Regions from separate parts of the Homo sapiens genome. Here region 1 is linked to region 2. Evidence: fine-mapped expression QTL. A gene starts in region 2. The other region holds a variant in brackets. All regions are shown on one strand. Distances are from middle to middle. Region 1 overlaps TMEM151B (transmembrane protein 151B). Region 2 holds the start of AARS2 (alanyl-tRNA synthetase 2, mitochondrial).

The links. PIP is the estimated chance that this variant, and not a neighbour inherited with it, causes the effect. A credible set is the group of variants that fine-mapping cannot tell apart.
Region 1: its variant is the best candidate, but not a certain one, in a credible set for the expression of AARS2 in whole blood (INTERVAL, PIP 0.80).

What each region holds. Positions count from the first base shown.
Region 1 is chr6:44,277,860-44,283,095 of GRCh38, reverse strand. TMEM151B (transmembrane protein 151B) reads right to left here. Exons shown (of 3, transcript NM_001137560.2): 3 at 3,652-5,236. It overlaps DRC5 (dynein regulatory complex subunit 5), which reads left to right. Exons shown (of 5, transcript NM_182539.4): 4 at 537-986; 5 at 2,706-4,362. The coding sequence ends at 2,915. Among named protein-coding and RNA genes, the nearest start is that of TMEM151B, 10 kb to the right of the region's middle. The variant C/T (reference allele first, on the strand shown) is at 2,576.
Region 2 is chr6:44,310,696-44,315,931 of GRCh38, reverse strand. AARS2 (alanyl-tRNA synthetase 2, mitochondrial) reads left to right here and starts at 2,585. Exons shown (of 22, transcript NM_020745.4): 1 at 2,585-2,851; 2 at 3,669-3,860; 3 at 4,397-4,542; 4 at 4,771-4,938. The coding sequence starts at 2,609. It overlaps LOC124901322 (a long non-coding RNA gene), which reads right to left. Exons shown (of 3, transcript XR_007059594.1): 3 at 1,385-1,781. RefSeq lists an enhancer at 2,281-2,840.

The DNA of each region.
Region 1 (5,236 bases), 33 kb after region 2:
GCGCGGTGGCTCACGCCTGTATTCCCAGCACTTTGGGAGGCTGAGGCGGGTGGATCACGAGGTCAGGAGATCAAGACCATCCTGGCTAACACGGTAAAACCCTGTCTCTACTAAAAATACAAAAAATTAGCAGGGCGTGGTGGCGGGCACTTGTAGTCTCAGCTACTCAGGAGGCTGAGGCAGGAGAATGGTGTGAATCCGGAAGGTGGACCTTGCAGTGAGCCAAGATCACGCCACTGCACTCCAGCCTGGGTGACAGAGCGAGACTCCGTCTCAAAAAAAAAAAAAAAAAAAAAGATAAAAAAGGAAGACCCAAGCAGCATACCCAGCATGTAGTAATTGCTCAATAAACAGTGATCTTTCCTCCCTGCTACCTGCCACCAATTCTACACTACTCTGCCATGCTGGTAGGCCTGGCCCCCTCCAAGACCCAGCCAGGTGGCCAACACTAGGTGAGCCAAGTTTGCCAAAGATCTAGGTGGGCAGGCTGATTATCCCTGGCTGGCAGTTGCTGTAGACCCTCTGCCTGCCCACAGATCTTCAAGCTGACCCGAAGCAAGGTGGATGATGACAAGGCACGCATCATAATTCGAAGCCTTCTGGACCACCCAGTCCTCGAGGAGCTGGACTTGTCACAAAACCTCATTGGAGACCGTGGTGCACGAGGTGCTGCCAAGCTGCTGAGCCACAGCCGCCTGCGTGTGCTCAACCTGGCTAACAACCAGGTGCGTGCACCCGGTGCCCAGTCCCTGGCTCACGCTCTGGCACACAACACCAACCTCATTTCCCTCAACCTACGTCTCAACTGCATCGAGGATGAGGGTGGCCAGGCTCTTGCCCATGCCTTGCAGACCAACAAGTGCCTCACCACGCTGCACCTCGGTGGCAATGAGCTGTCTGAGCCCACCGCCACACTCCTGTCACAGGTGCTCGCCATCAACACCACACTCACCAGCATCAACCTGTCCTGCAACCACATCGGGCTGGTGAGCCACCTATTCTGGGCTTGTGAGGGTGGGTGTGGAATCCAACTGCCAGGGGTACTTGTGGGATAATTGTGAAGATCACAGAGTTTACATACTACATACTGCATCAAGTATGCACACATACTGTGTATCCCAATGATTATTTTTCCTTTAATCCTTACAGTTACCTAAGTAACTGTATATTAACCCTAAGCATATTTAACCCTAAATATATTTAAGTATATAACTAAGTATATTTAACCCTACTTTCTAGATGGAAAACTAAGTTTCAGAGAGGATAGTGAGTTGCCCAAGGGCATCAAGTCAGTAGCAAGTGGCAAGGCTACGATTCAAACCCAAGATTGATTGAAAGCCTGAGTCCTTTCTAATAGACTGTGTCTCTAAAACTTTCTTAACCAAGTCTGAGAGTAAGAAATGCAATTTACGACCAGGCACAGTGGCTCACGCCTGTAATCCCAGCACTTTGGGAGGCTGAGGTGGGTAGATCACCTGAGGCCAGGAGTTCGAGACCAGTCTGGCCAACATGGTGAAACCCCATATCTACTAAAAATACAAAAATCAGCCCAATGTGGTGGCATGCACCTGTAACCCCAGCTACTTGGGAGCCTGAGGCAGGAGAATTGCTTGAACCCAGGAGGCGGAGATTGCAGTGAGCTGAGATCGTGCCCCTGCACTCCAGCCTGGGTGACAGTGCGAGACTCCGTCTCAAAAAAAAAATGCAATTTACATGAACACTGACATAAACATAATATTGAAATTTATGACGTGATATATGCTGATATTTTCCTTTACATTCCATTCTATTGTATTTTTTAAAATGCTTCTGTGACCCATTAAATTGACTTTGCAACACACTACTGGGTCACAACCACAGAATGGTAGCATTCTGCCTCCCAACGTGAAATTCTTTCACATTGGGGCTAGCCCACCCAGCCCAGCAGGGGTTGGAGCTGTGATGACCATTGAGCAGGGCCCTCCATTAGGTCACTGAACCCTCTACTAAACCTCCCCATGAGAACAGCCTTGCTCACCTACACAGGCACATACACGCACACACACGTGCATGCGCGCACACACACACACACACAGTTTCTAGAGGGGGTGCTGTTGACTGCAAGTAATAAAAAGCTTAATCAGAAATGGCTTAAGCAGGAGGAATATTCAGTGTCTCCCACAACCAGAATTAGAGGGTTGTAGGGTCGGTAAACCCCTGGGTTCAGTGCTACCCTCTGCTCTGCCCACCCCAGTCTCATGGCCAATGCCTCGCTAGTGCTTCTGTCAGTCCCAAGATGGCTGCCACAGTTCTGACATCTCATACAGGGACATGCCCAGAGGCAGAAACCGGGAGAACACCTGCTCCCTTTTCTTCTCTTTTTGGAATGAGGAGAAGCTTCCCAGAAGCCACCCTCTCTCAGCTTCCCCCTCACATCTCATTAGATTTGTCCCACATGCCCATGGCTGAACCAAAGGAATGGAATTATCTTCATTGCCAGAGATTCATGTTTTTCAAACTAGTAGGGTTGAGATGTCAATTTAGTGGGTATTGGCTACCATTTTTCAAATGGAAAAGAACAGAATATGTCATCATG[C/T]GTCACAAATAGGTTAAGTATTGTTTTGTGAAACTTTTGTTTTAGTCACATCTACCTGAAAATGTGTAGTATGTGTGTCAGATCCTGGGTAGTGATGTAAATGACCCCTTCCTTTGCACCCTTCTCCCAGGACGGTGGGAAGCAGCTCCTGGAAGGCATGTCAGACAACAAGACCCTCCTGGAATTTGACTTGCGCCTGTCAGATGTGGCCCAGGAAAGCGAGTACCTCATTGGCCAGGCCCTCTACGCAAACCGAGAAGCAGCCCGCCAGCGGGCCCTGAATCCCAGCCACTTCATGTCAACCATAACTGCCAATGGCCCTGAGAACTCTGTGGGATAAAATGACCTGACTTGGATCATGGCCCCAGCCCCATCCCTCATTTCATACCCCTGCCATGCCTGCTGCAGAGTATCACACTGGTTCAGAGGGAGCGGGGAGGGGGACTGTGAATAACCTTGGAGTGATCAAGGGTTGTATGGATGGAGACATGAGGCAGGGAAGGGAGCCTGGCATGGGGGAAGAAAGGGTATGCAGTAGGGACCCAGCCTTTGTGCCCAGGGAAAGGATATTACTGGACACCCACAAATGACCAACTTCTTTCAGGAACAGGGAAGTCAGAGAGGTGTCTGAGGGACTGTGCCTGCCAGATTCTCCCGTTGGGGCTGCCTGCCTCCCTGACTCCCCACCATTTTCTTCTCTACCAAACAGATCCTTGATCTTCAAACACACACACACACACACACACACACACACACACACACACACACACACCCTCTGGCTACAGCAGGGCTATGCCTGGCTCTCTCTGCCACCCTCATCCCTGTAGATGCATTTCCCTGTTGCTTGACTCTGCTTTAAGTGATCCAGTTCTACAGGCCACGCCATCCCCTAGTTCCCCAACTCCCAACCTGGGAAGGGGACAATGAGCTGACACCAGGGGCTCAGACCCAGTGGACTCCTCTGGGGAGGCAACTGTAGATGACAACTTCCAGGGAAGGATGACACAATCCCTGCCACCCACCCCAGAGAGCTTCCCTGGGAGGGAGGGAAAGAAGTGCCACACTGGGACAGGAAGTCAGTGAGTCATCCACGACTTTATTATCCACCAGTTTGATTTGTACAATCTTTGCGCTTAAATCCACGACAAAAAGGCCACAGTGTGATGCACCCAATTGACAGAGACCTGTCTTCTCCCCAGCCAGGCCCAGCCCACCCCACAAGCCCTTGTCCCCAGGACACATGGAGCCTTCCAGGTGCCCTACATGAGTCCCCCATCACTCTGTAGCTGTCCACCCTGGGGCCACACCTACAGGAATCACATCAGCCCCCAGGGCCACAAGAGACCTAGCTGACTGATTCAGGCTGAGCGCCATTGCCCATCCTCCTTGGGCTGATTCATTGGCCCAGAGCCTCCAGAACTGTGTCCCCAAAGGGCAGGTCATGGGCTACAACCCCAGTCCAGGAGTGCCTGCTCTCCAGGGACTCCTTCCGCTAAGCAGGCGCTGAGCAGAGCACCAAAGGGGGCTTGGGAGTGACTGCATGTGTGTGCCTGTCTAGGCAACCTAGAGTCTGTCTGTGCCTGACACCCTCTGACAGTTCCGGAGTGCAAACGTGTAGGTGTGAGGGTGTGTGTGTGTGTGTGTGTGTGTATAGCCACAGCTGCTAGCAGAAGTTCTAATTAGAGAAACAAGAACATTCAGTGTAAAGTTTAATTTTAGAGATTAATTAATTTTCTGGTTTTCATTTTCCCTGGCAATCAGTAAAGCTACCAAGAAAATAGACCAAAGAATTGGTTTCTCTCTAAGTCTGTGCATGTGTGGGAGATGAGGCTGTCTGAGACGACCTAGGCAGAAATGGTCAATACAGGCAAAAATAATAATAGAGGTCCCCCTTCCCCTCTTGTGAGACCAGGCTCTGTCTCAGGAACAGGCCTGAGGGAGGAGGAGCCACGTTCCTCCTTCCTTGGAGCCCTGAGGTGGCCAGGCTGTCCCCACACAAAGCATGACATCCAGGTGCCAGCTGGCTAAGAAATGGAGCCTGAGGCTGCAGCTCACCACCTGTACCTCACAGATGTCCATTCAGAGGAAAGAAGGGTGCTCCAAACGCCAGGCCCCCAAGGAGCACAGACTCAGGGTCCAGGCAGGTTCAGTGCTAGTAGGCAGGTGGGCACTGCTGTCCAGGAAAACCTGGTGGGCAGCTGTTTCCCCTGCCCAAGCCTCCCTCTCTCTAGCCTCTTCTCCCTCCTCACTCAGCCATCTCTACCTGAAAGTAAAGCTAAACCCTTTAGAAGCCATGGGCCATGGTATCCCCACAATTTGGGCCCCTCGCACTCCCCGCTAGGAAGAAGGGAAGGGGAGCCAGAGGCGATGTTGCATAGGTGGAGGCCACACAGTTGGTGGTGCAGGCCTGGCTGGGCTGAAGGAAGATGAGAGGGGCTGAAGGAGGGTAAGGAGGAGTTCTGATGGCTCAGGCGAAGTAAGAAGCATCAGGGGTGAGAGATGTGGGTGGCCCAAGGGTTATCCTCTCTAGCCTGAAATGTGAGCTCAATCCCTGGGTGCTAAATCTGCTGGGGAGACTTTAGCCAGGGGAGTTGGCAGGGCAGGAGGGCTGTTCACAGACATGCACACTGAAGCACATCAGGGTGGAGGTGGTGGGGGGAG
Region 2 (5,236 bases):
TAAAGCACCACTGTCTTAAACAATGAAAGGAGCACCCCAAATGTTGCTCACAAAACCCAGCTGAGTAACTCGCAAAAAGCAGACCCCATTTGCATGTTAAACCTCAAAATGAAATTCCCATAAATACTAAGACAGTGGATCAGTACCCTTCAGAGAAGTTCCCAGGATTGGTAACTTCCCTGTCTGATGAGTTTTCTCCACCTCCATCTATCTTGGGAAACTGCAGTCCTTCAATTTAACTTCCTCATCAGATGACAGCTGCAAACCAGAACAGACACGTCCCAATCCTAGATGAACCGCTTTGCTTCACTGGGAAATATTAAAAAGAACCTAATGATTCACCAAAGAGCACCACATTTAAAGAAAAGAAAATTATCATTTTTAGTGGCAAAGACAAAATTAGATGAGAGAAAAACCTACTTCAAACAGAAAACAACTAAAAACATTTTTCTAAAAATCCATGGTACATGCTACAACATGGATGAACCTTGAAAATATTATTTTATGTGAAAGAAGCCAGTTACAAAGAACCACATATTACATGATTCCATTTACATGAAATGTCCAGAATATACAAGTCTGTAGAGACAGAAGGTAGATTAGTGGTTGCCAAGGGCTAGGAAGGATGAGACGATTGGGGGTTAATGGCTAAAGGATTTGGGGTTTTATTTGGAAGTAATGAAAATGTTCTAAAAGTGATTGTGGTGATGGATGGGCAACTCTATGTAAATATACTAAAAGGCATTGAACTGTATACTTTATTTAAATGGGCGAATTGTATAGCATGTAAATTATATTTCAATAAAGCTGTTTTAAAAAAATTATATGGCTCCACACTAGATCCATGTTTGGAGTTTCTAATGTAACACAATGACTTTCTGGGCAAAATCTGAAAAAAAAAAAGTTGATGTCAGTACTGAGTAGAGGCCCTGCCAGGTTTGTATGGCAAAACACTCCCATCTCAGTTTGGGAAATAATTTCACAGTCTTGTCTAAAGATCATCAATCTCAGCTGGGCGCAGTGGTGCATGCCTGTAATCCCAGCACTTCGGAAGGCTGAGGTAGGCAGGTCAGCTGAGGTCGGGAGTTCAAGACCAGCCTGACCAACATGGAGAAACCCCATCTCTACTAAAAATACAAAATTAGCCGGGCGTGGTGATGCATGCCTGTAATCCCAGCTACTCAGGAGGCTAAGGCAGGATAATTGCTTGAACCCGGGAGACAGAGGTTGCAGAGAGCCGAGATTGTGCTATTGCACGCCAGCACAACAAGAGTGAAACCCCATCTCAAAAAAATAAAAAAGTCATTAATCACACAGAAATCCCCAGCTGGCTTTAGCTTTCTGTTCCAGAAACACTGGAAAAACCAAAACAGGCCAAACACACTTTCAAAACAACACCTTTAATCTATGTGGGCAAAGGGAGAAAAAGGGGATCATGGAATAGGAGTTATAGGTGCTGTCAGAACACAAAGTTAAGAATTTACTATCACTATAGAAATTCAAGTCCAATGTAGATTCCGCAGAGAAACTATGTATACAAAGACCCCAAATAACTTAACACACACAGAATCGTGGCTAAAAGAGACCACCCTGATGGCTAAGGCCTTCTCGGTTATTACACTGACCTCAGCTCTGGAACCTCTATTGAGTTTTAGCTTTGGCAGATTCTCTTCTGTCTTCCCAATCTGTTTAATTTCCCAAGCCAAGGGCATCATGAGAAGCCCCATGAGCACCCTGATTGCATCCACAAGGGCCTGTTGGCTTCAGGGTCACAGCTGTTACTATGGAAAGACAGAAGGGAGAGGTAGAACAGGTATATCTCTTATCCTAAACGAAAACACACAAAACCTTAGGGCATTAGAAGGCTTAGAGAGTGAAATCTCTGCAGCTATTAGCCAACAGCTTCCTCCTGCCTTGACGACCTGGATTCTCTCTGATCCCCAGGCAAATGAGAAGACCAAATGTTAGGCAATTAATAATATAGCAGATGCTGTTTGGCTTCTGTGTTCTCCTATAGACTCCTGCTTCACGGGCAAAAATGGCCGTGTCTGATGCCAAGGTCCAAGGAAACTGGCAAATGCCTAGAACAGTGCCTAGCACATACTAGGTCTTCAATAAATATTTGTTGAATACCTCTTGAATGAATGCTGATACTCCCCTGTCACTCTCTGCCTTCTTCCCTCAGCCTGGAAAAACACACACAAAACACACACACACACACACACACACACACACGAAGTTGAATCCACACCTGTTTATTGCAACCCCATCTGTAACTTTGCAAAACTAATAAGCACAACAGCAATTACTGCTAGAATACGGATTTCAGTGGGCAGGGCATTTTGTCAATTTTGTACCCTAAAAGCCCAAAACAATGCCTAGCACATAGTAGGCTCTCAATGAATATTTGCTTAATGCCGAATGAATTAAGAGCCTACTATGTGCCGGGCGCTGTGCTAGACTCTGCCAGCGACCCAATCGATCGCTTCCACCCCGGCGGCAGAGGCCGCCCCCTGAGTCCTCCTACCGCCAGGGGCCGCTGTAGGAAACGCCTGGCTTCCTTCCCTCGTCACTCTTTGACCACGTAAAGTCACTGCCCGGAGCTACGATGGCAGCGTCAGTGGCAGCTGCAGCCCGGAGGCTGCGGCGGGCCATTCGAAGGTCGCCCGCATGGCGGGGCCTCAGCCATCGGCCGCTCTCATCGGAGCCCCCTGCAGCCAAGGCCTCGGCCGTGAGGGCCGCCTTTCTGAACTTCTTTCGGGACCGCCATGGCCACCGGCTGGTGCCCTCCGCTTCCGTGCGGCCCCGCGGCGACCCCAGTTTGCTTTTTGTCAATGCGGGCATGAACCAGGTGAGGGCCGAACCATACTGATAGGGAGCGGAGTTCGTGAGTTTTCTGGTGAGAAAGACGCTGCAGGATTGGGCAAAAGAAGCGAGAGGCGGAGTTCGTAGCTTTTGGGGAAAGAGGGCGGTGCTTGGTTGGGTAAAGTGATGGGGGTACGGCGCTCAGAGTATAGGGAGGGCTTGGGGAGGGCTTGAGCTGGGAACTTCTGGATTGGGATTGAGTATTAGGTCCAGAAATGGCTGGAGTGGAATCCCGAGGGAGAAGTCTGATTTCATTTATTCGTTATTTAAATAAAGATAACGCTTTCATTAAATGTTTATTGATCACCTATTGTTTGCTGAGTACTATTCTCTAAGGTTTTGGTTTTTATCAACCACTCATCTTTTCTAGACTTCATTGTCCTCATCTGTAAAATAGGGGCGGCATAAGTTAACCTTAGAGGCCGTCTGGGCTCCCTACTAAATGAGTCTCAGTTTTGTTCCCTGAAGTTATTGGGTGTGGTTGAAGAAGCTGAGACGGAGGATGCCACCTTTCAGCGTCCCATTTCCAGCTCCCAACACATTCCTCCTTCTTTTACCTTGCCTATTTTACTAGGCAGAGGGTCTCCGGTTCATGATTTGTTTACCTCTTCTCTGCTCCCCACACACCAGAGATGGCTGTCCCGAGGCTCCCAGTTTGTCCTCATAGACCAAGATTACACTGCACTCTCAGGGGCACAGTCAGCCTTCGGTCTGAACAGCCATCCCTATCCTCACTCCCCACATTTCCCTTCTACTGAGAAATTGGATATCCCTCTCCCCCTCCCCACTCTATGTGCTTCCAGTTCAAGCCAATCTTTCTGGGCACCGTGGATCCACGAAGCGAGATGGCAGGCTTCCGACGTGTGGCCAACAGCCAGAAATGTGTGAGAGCTGGAGGACACCATAACGACCTGGAAGATGTGGGTCGAGACCTTTCCCATCATACCTTCTTTGAAATGCTTGGCAATTGGGCCTTTGGGGGTGAATATTTTAAGGTGAGTCTCTGGGGATCAGTGATCAGCCAAGAAGGGAGTCAATTTGTCCTGTTTCCATTGTACTGTCTGCTTAGGCAGGGCCTCATACCAGATGTGGAGGCAAAGTGCTAGTTGAGCCGGTGTAACAGGAATTACCTCACCTCCCTGATTGGATTGTAAGTCCCTGAAGGGCAGAGACTGTACTTTCTGCCTAATGATCACTCAAAAATTGTTGTTTGAATAAATGGTCAAACAGCAATGCTAAGGTGCTTACTGGAGTTAAAGATCACTCTAGGCTAGAGTAGGCAGAGAATTTCATGTGAAAGTGGGACTTGGTCTGGGACTTGAAAGAAGATAGGACTTAGAAGAAGGGGGAAGCTTTCTGGGCAGGAAAACACTCAGAGGCAGTAATGGTTCATGGCTTATTCTGGGAACAAGATGGCAGCAGAAATGCTTTTGTCTTAAGTCGGGAGCTAAACTCATGTGGCTTGATTACTTCAGTGGGGTCTCCCTCTCACCCGTCTTCCCCCCCCACCCCATGCTGGTTTCTGCTGCAGGAGGAGGCTTGTAACATGGCCTGGGAACTGCTGACTCAGGTCTATGGGATCCCTGAGGAAAGGCTCTGGATCTCCTACTTTGATGGTGACCCCAAGGCAGGGCTGGACCCAGACCTGGAGACCAGGGACATCTGGCTGAGCTTAGGGTAAGTCAGCCCCCTTCTTATGTTCATTCCTGGAGGTCAGGAGGACTGGAAAGTGGAGACTACCAGCACCAATCCTCAGAGTCTTAGCATTTCATTCCAGGATATTGTGGGGTCAGCCCTGTTCCTCCTCTTGCTGAGCTGTGACTTGAGGGAGGGGCTCTCATGGCAGAGAGAGTCCCAGCTTCTGGGTCTGTCTGTCTCCCACCACTCACCTGCTTTTCTCCCCAGGGTGCCTGCTAGCCGTGTGCTTTCCTTTGGACCACAAGAGAACTTCTGGGAGATGGGGGATACTGGCCCTTGTGGGCCCTGTACTGAGATCCACTACGACCTTGCTGGTGGGGTGGGAGCCCCCCAGCTGGTAGAGCTTTGGAACCTGGTCTTCATGCAACACAACAGGTAATAGGGTGCTGAAGCAGGATGAGAATCCCTGACTAGAAGTGGGAAAGGTGGCAATTAGAAGACTTTGATCTGTTTCATATAAAAACAAACATGTAAACGGTGCTTACCGTGTGTCAGGCACAATTCTCAACACCTTATAGATAATAACTGATTTAATTGTAGTCTTTGCCTGTGACAGCTTAAACAAGTCACTGCTATTCTCTGTTGAACTTGATGATCAACGAGTTGAACTTGATGATCTCAGATTTTCTTCTAGCCTTGACATATCTTTCTAGGGGCAAAGAATTCTGTCCCA